2 linked regions of the Homo sapiens genome follow. The gene in region 1 interacts genetically with each later gene. Each region holds a gene or a part of one and is shown in the gene's direction. Other genes may lie near its edges.

Evidence for each region.
Region 2: changes in NT5M (region 1) and DAPK3 together harm fitness less than expected from each alone (positive genetic interaction), as found in Homo sapiens cells (one large-scale study listed by BioGRID).

What each region holds. Positions count from the first base shown.
Region 1 is NC_000017.11:17,344,525-17,348,223, forward strand, and holds the end of NT5M (5'(3')-deoxyribonucleotidase, mitochondrial isoform 4 precursor), read left to right. Parts: intron 1-219; coding exon of another isoform or gene 220-225; exon of another isoform or gene 226-269; coding exon 270-384; coding exon of another isoform or gene 385-402; intron 403-703; coding exon of another isoform or gene 704-788; intron 789-2,280; coding exon 2,281-2,423; 3' UTR 2,424-3,139; downstream 3,140-3,699. UniProt on the Homo sapiens protein: Dephosphorylates specifically the 5' and 2'(3')-phosphates of uracil and thymine deoxyribonucleotides, and so protects mitochondrial DNA replication from excess dTTP. Has only marginal activity towards dIMP and dGMP.
Region 2 is NC_000019.10:3,957,670-3,961,119, reverse strand, and holds the end of DAPK3 (death-associated protein kinase 3), read left to right. Parts: coding exon 1-111; intron 112-1,015; coding exon 1,016-1,061; intron 1,062-1,482; coding exon 1,483-2,019; 3' UTR 2,020-2,667; downstream 2,668-3,450. UniProt on the Homo sapiens protein: Serine/threonine kinase which is involved in the regulation of apoptosis, autophagy, transcription, translation and actin cytoskeleton reorganization. Involved in the regulation of smooth muscle contraction.

The sequences.
Region 1 (3,699 bases):
GAAGAGGGGACAGGGCTGGGTTTGTCGTGACTCTGCTGCTTTCTAGCTACTGGAGTGTGGACCAGCCATGTGCGCTCCCTGAGTGCTGGCGTCCTGGGCTGGACTCCCTCCCAGCACTGACTGCCTGGCGCTGGGCCTTGGTGTCAGGCCTCCATCCCTCCCTGCCTGTTAGCTGAGGTCTAGGCTGACCCCTGCCCTCGGCTCTTGGTTGGCTCCCAGGTCTGATGTCACTTTCTTCTCACCACCTGCCCTTGCCTGTTTGCGTCCAGTATGCCTGGGTGGAGAAGTACTTTGGCCCTGACTTTCTGGAGCAGATTGTGCTGACCAGAGACAAGACCGTGGTCTCTGCTGACCTTCTCATAGACGACCGGCCGGACATCACAGGCAAGTGGCCTGCGACAGGTGAGGAGCACGTGGGGAGGGCCCCAGCCTTGGCCCCCTTCTCCTGGGCAGTGAGCACTCAGTTGCTTCCTGCCCCACTTAGTCACCAGCTGTTTGCCAGGCACTGAGCCCCTCCCCTTCGGGAAGACAAGGCCCCCTCTGTATGGGCTGTGGCCTGGTGCTCCTGGGAGCTGGGAGGAGTGGGTGCCAGCTCTAGGGTTAGCTTGAGGGGTGGCCTTGGGGAAGTCCCTTCAGCTTCAAAGCCTTGTCTTCCTCATGTAACATGGGGACTCAACTCTGGTTTCCAAATGTTTGTTTTTAGCAACAAAACCCATTTTTTCCCCCAAAAGCAATGTGGACTGATGCAATGAATGACAGGAGGGCAGAGCAGAGCTCCTGCAGGGAAGGTGGGTTGGGACAGAAGACCCCCCTCCCCAAAACCAAACAAGCCAGTCAACCTTGAACTGCCGTAGAAAGGAGAGGGAGATGGGCGTGGTGACTCACGCCTGTAATTTGGGAGGCTGATGTGGGTGGATGGCTTGAGCCCAGGAGTGTGAAACCAGCCTGGCCAACATAGCGAGACTCTCTCTACAAAAAATACAAAAATTATCTGGGCATGGTGGTGCATGCCTGTAGTCCCAGCTACTTCAGGGGCTGAAGTGGAAGGATTGTTTGAGCCTAGGAGTTGGAGACCAGCCTGGGCAACATGGTGAGACTCCCTGTCTCTACAAAAAAAAAAAAAAAAACACAAAAAAATTAGCTGATCATCATGGCGCATGCCTGTGGTCCCTGCTACTCTGGAGGCTGAGGTGGGAAAATCACCTGAGCTGGGGAGGTGGAGGCTGCAGCGAGCTGTGATTGCACCACTGCATTCCAGTCTGGGTGACAGAGTAAGACCCTGTCTCCAGAAAACAAAACAAAATACAACACAGCACAGGAGAGGGGAAGTTTTTTGGTTTACCTAACTGGAAAGGGGTGAGGAGGGCTTTGGCCGGCCAAATCTAGGCGTTGAAACTGCCCGTGAGTGTTGTTTCTTTGCCTCTTGGCTCTGCCCTGGCCTGGTTTTTGACATCCTCCTCCTGGTAGCCGTCAGTAGTTTCAGGTCGAGTCTTTTGGACACCCCAGTGGGAATATACATTCTATTTTTTTCCCTGATTGTTTTAGAACTGGCTTGGGAAACATGCCCACCTCCATCACTGCGTCCAGAGGGTGGACTCCACGAGTGTACCCACCCCACCCCACCCTCCCCAGCCTCGTGGGTTCCCGCCAGAGTCAGGGCAGACAGTGGTCTGTGGGGTCCCGTGACCTTGAGGGCCCAAAGGCTGGCTTGGCCTCCATCTCCAGCCACAGGTTGTTGGGGGCGGGTGTATAACCCAAAGGGGTGGCATCACCAGCAGCACCAGTGTGGACACGAGGGAATGAGGCCTGGAGAGGCTGCAGGGGCCTGTGATCAGCGGCTGGTGAGCTGCAGAGCTGGTGCCACCTGGCCTTCCCACACCAGGCCATCAGGATGGTGGGGCACAGAGAGGGAAGTTGGGGGAACACCGTGTGGTGTAAGCCATCAGGATGGCAGGGCACGGAGAGGGAAGTCGGGGGAACACCATGTGGTGTAAGCCATCAGGAGGCGGGGCACATGTCCCTTGCCAGTGCTGGTGGTGACAGTGACCCGCAGTCAGTCCCTGTTGACTGAGCACTGGCTGCGCGTGCTGACGGCCTCCTTGCCGCATCTCGTGCCATCCTCACACCCGCTGCGAAGGCGGGTGTGCGTGCAGTCACCCCTTTACAGAGGAAACAAGTTTTGGCAAGGCCAGATGCCTGCCTGGATACCCAGGTTTCCACCCTAGGCGGCTGCGCTCCAGGTCTCCACTGCTGAGCTGAATGCCGCTTTCCCACCCACAGGGGCCGAGCCAACCCCCAGCTGGGAGCATGTCCTCTTCACCGCCTGCCACAACCAGCACCTGCAGCTGCAGCCCCCCCGCCGCAGGCTGCACTCGTGGGCGGACGACTGGAAGGCCATTCTGGACAGCAAGCGGCCCTGCTGAGCTGGACTGTGCTTCGGGCTCCTCTGTGGGGCTCTGACCTCAGGGCTCCCAGCTCGGGGCCTGTGGGGCCAGTATGCTGGTCTGGGAGTCCCTCCTAGACTCCTGGGCCCCATGACCTCCTGCTGCATGTCCCTTCCCTTCCCCAGCCCTGCCAGGCCTTAACCTGATCACGGGGCAGGGCTGGGCCCTCTGGGCGCTTGGACATAGACACGTGGTCCCAGGCCGTTCAGCCTGACCTCAGGCAGCAGGCACCAAGCTGCCAGAAGCCCAGGGGCTCAGGACAGGGAGGAGTTGAGGCCACTGTTCAGGGGGCTGGTGGCCGTCTCCACTCCCTAGGCAAGTTCTCTGAGGCAGAAGGGGGTTCCCTGTTCCCAGAGTCTGCAGCCATCAGCAAGGAGGACCAGGAACCCGGCGACTGAGGTGCTTCCAGGTGGGGACAAGCCCCTCTTGGTCTCAGCCACAGCACCCCTTATTCCAGCTGCCCTGCCCAACCTGCTCACCCCACATGACCTTCTGTGTATTCAGCAAACACTCACTAGGTGACAGCGGCCACCAGGCTCTGTGCTGGGGGACGATACTGGCCCTGGCCTCGACCAGCTTAGAGGTTTCTCACACCTCTGTTCCCAGGGCCCCGCTCAGGGCCCAGCAGAGAGTCCGTAGGCTTGAACATGTGTTGAGTGCATGAAAAATAAATGCTGTTCATGTGTGTAGCTCAAGGCTGTGGCCTGCCCTAAGATCCTCTAGCGTCTGCCCCCACTGGGGACCCAGCTTCAGGTCTTGTAAGTGTCTGGGCAGTTCCACTGCATTGAAGACAGGCGGAGGAAGGCATGACTTCAGCCCATGCCTCGCAGGGTGGGTCCTAGTGGTGGTCTCCTCGGGCCACCCACCCACTCTCGTTGGTGAGACTTAGGAGGTGGGTCTTAGTGGTGGTCTCCTCGGGCCACCCACCCACTCTCATTGGTGAGGTTTAGGAGATGGGCTCCAGACACTCGGTTGCTCTCTCAAGTGCCTCCTTCCCGCACCTGCCCCAGTGCTTCAGAGCAGGGTCCCCCGTCCCCCTCTCCTCCGCTCTTCTCCCAAGGCCAAGTTTCTGTGGGATCGCAGGAGCCCTGTGGGGAAGGCTGGTGTTAGAGTCTCAGCTTCTGTTCCTTTTGACCCGCTGGGAAGTGACAGCTTGAACCAGCCACCTCCCCACTAACCTTTGGAGAGGTTTTGGGACCACTTTCTTGTCCTTATGCCCTTCCCGTTACTGCTCTGGCCGCTCTCCCATCATGGC
Region 2 (3,450 bases), on another chromosome or scaffold:
GACGCTCACCAACATCTCAGCCGTGAACTACGACTTCGACGAGGAGTACTTCAGCAACACCAGCGAGCTGGCCAAGGACTTCATTCGCCGGCTGCTCGTCAAAGATCCCAAGTACGAGGGGCCGGCAGGGGGCACGGGGTGGGACATGGGACACAGGCCCACTCCACCCACGGAGGCTCCAGAGGACTCTCCTCCCAGCGCCACCTCCCTGCGGCTGGGGATCAGACATTGCTTACCCCTTGGGCTGGAGAGAGTAAACTGATAAACTGGTGGCCCAAGCTGGCCATTGCCATGGTTTTTTTTTTTTTTTTTTTTTGAGACGGAGTCTTTTTTTTTGAGACGGAGTCTTGCTCTGTCTCCCAGGCTGGAGTGCAGTGCAGTGGCGTGATCTCGGCTCACTGCAGCCTCTGCCTCCCGGGTTCAGGCTATTCTCCTGCGTTAGCCTCCCAAGTAGCTGGGATTATAGACGCCCGCCACCACGCCTGGCTAATTTTTGTATTTTTAGTAGAGACAGGGCTTCACCATGTTGCCCAGGCTTGTCTTGAACTCCTGACCTCCTTGGTTTGTGATTTGCCTGCCTTGGTCTCCCAAAGTGCTGGGATTGCGGGCGTGAGACACCGTGTCTGGCTGCTTGCTGTGTTTTTAGCAAACTTTTAATTAGTTGCCGGTGTGTAAAGTAAGGATCCATGTAAAATTCCAGGTCACTTGTTTTCCTGTAAACACTTAGAATTCTGGCAGTGCTGAGCCCTCACTCGTAGGCCTCCCCGGGCCTCCATGGCCGCCCAGTCCCTCTCTCGGGCGCCTGGGTTTGCGACTCCAGCCTGAGGTCTCAGCTCTCTCCACCACCCCCCAGAAAACCCCACGCTCCCTGCAGTACCCTTGTTCAGCTTCTGTGGTTGGCTGAGCAGAGGCTGGGGGGCGACTTTAGGGCTTTTGGGGGTCCCGGGAGTCAGTTGTTCACGGGAGGACGGGACAGATGGTGCAGGTGTACCTAACCAGAGCGGGGGTCTTCCAGGCGGAGAATGACCATTGCCCAGAGCCTGGAACATTCCTGGATTAAGGTAAGTGGGGAGGTGGGGGAGCTCCCTGGGCTTCCCGCCTTGGCCTTCTCGCTGGGGTCCCGGGGGGCCTTCAGCATTTAAGGCTTGTGGATGTGACAACCCCCAGTGGCTGGGGAGGGTCCCCAGAGGAGTGAGCCTGTGTGGCGGGGGTTGGGTCCTGGGCGTGGGATGTCCAGCACCCGACAGACCTGGTGGCATCCTTGGCTGGTGTGTGTCCAACGGGGCTGACTCCTGGGGCCAGGGCCGCAGCGTTTTTCTCGAGAGAGCACTCTCGGCTTTGCGTCGGGCTGGGCAGTCTCCGTCACGAGGCGTTGACTCTGCTGCCGGATGAGCCCCTGAACCTCAGTTCACACTGGCAGGTGGGGGCTGGCGGGGCTGGGTGGCATCGCGGGGACCCCGCTCAGGCTTCCCTCCTTCCTAGGCGATCCGGCGGCGGAACGTGCGTGGTGAGGACAGCGGCCGCAAGCCCGAGCGGCGGCGCCTGAAGACCACGCGTCTGAAGGAGTACACCATCAAGTCGCACTCCAGCTTGCCGCCCAACAACAGCTACGCCGACTTCGAGCGCTTCTCCAAGGTGCTGGAGGAGGCGGCGGCCGCCGAGGAGGGCCTGCGCGAGCTGCAGCGCAGCCGGCGGCTCTGCCACGAGGACGTGGAGGCGCTGGCCGCCATCTACGAGGAGAAGGAGGCCTGGTACCGCGAGGAGAGCGACAGCCTGGGCCAGGACCTGCGGAGGCTACGGCAGGAGCTGCTCAAGACCGAGGCGCTCAAGCGGCAGGCGCAGGAGGAGGCCAAGGGCGCGCTGCTGGGGACCAGCGGCCTCAAGCGCCGCTTCAGCCGCCTGGAGAACCGCTACGAGGCGCTGGCCAAGCAAGTAGCCTCCGAGATGCGCTTCGTGCAGGACCTCGTGCGCGCCCTGGAGCAGGAGAAGCTGCAGGGCGTGGAGTGCGGGCTGCGCTAGGCGCAGTGGGGTGGGCCAGGCCCCAGGACAGCCGGAGCTCGGCCTGCGGTGGGGGCGCTTCCTGTGGACGCTGCGCCTCCCATCGCCCGGGTGCCTGTCCTTGCCCAGCGCCACCAGGCTGGAGGCGGAGTGGGAGGAGCTGGAGCCAGGCCCGTAAGTTCGCAGGCAGGGGTGGGTGTGGGACGGGGCTGCTTCTCTACACAGCCTCCACGCTGGCCTTCACCTTCACCCCTGCATCGTCGGTGACCCTGGGACCCTCCAGGCAGCGTGGCCTGTGGCACCGTGAGGGTTGGGACCCACCGAGGCGCAGAGGCGGCCCGAATGCAGCCCTGGTTCAGGCCCGGAGGAGGGTTTGCGGGTAGTTGCACGGACAATTCGGCGGGGTGCTGCCTGTTGCTGCCATTAGCCCAGGAGGAGGTCGTGGGACGGGGAGGGTGGGATGGACGGCGGACAGGCAGTCCCCACGCTGCTGGGTGGCGCCGGGCTTGGTGGGGTCTTCCACTGTGTGCCCTTCTCGCCGAGGCCGGTCCCCCGGGTGTGGGGTGCCCTGCTGCGGACTCCTCCGCGAGCCCCATCGTCGCGCCTGTGGACGCCTAGGCAAGAGCGGCCCTCTGCAGCCAAGAGAAATAAAATACTGGCTTCCAGATACGCGGGTGTTGTGTGCCTCAGGCCTTGGCAGGGGACAGCCAGCCCTTGGCCACTGGGGATATGCCCTCCGCGGCGTTCATGTTTCTCTCTGTGTTCCATGCCTGCCGCTGTGCTCAGGAAGGAGGGGACAAACCGGGGGTCCTCGCAGACCTTCACGGTGTCCTGGGAGCTGCCGGATCTTGGTCTCAGCTGCCCCGAGTGTTTTGATTGCAATGAGGTGGAAGCTCTGGGCAGCTGAGGTGGATCAGAAGCGTTTCCTGTCCCTTTGCGCCTTACGGGATGCTGCTGTGTCCCACGTGGGAGCCCCTGCCCCGTCTGGAGCCACATGCAGGTGGCCCTGGAGGGGGAGCGGCTCAGCTCAGCTGCTAGGGCTCACAGGTGGTTTCAGAGAGGGGCCCCGACCCTGTCCATCCTCCCTGGAGGAAGTTTTTTTGCTTTTTTTTTTTTTTTTTTTTTTGAGAGCGAGTCTGGCCCTGTTGCCCAGGCTGGAGTGCAGTGGTGCGATCTTGGCTCACTGTAACCTCGGTCTCCTGGACTCAAGCGGGTCTCCTGTCTCAGCCTCCCAGGTGTCTGGGATTACAGGCATACACCACCACACGTGGCTAATTTTTTTTTTTTTTTTTTTGAGGTGGAGTTTTGCTCTTGTTGCCCAGGCTGGAGTGCAGTGGTGTGGTCTTGGCTCACCGCAACCTCCGTCTCCCATGTTCAAGCGATTCTTCTGCCCCAACCTCGCGAGTAGCTGGGTTTACAGGCATGTACCACCACACCGGGCTAATTTTGTAT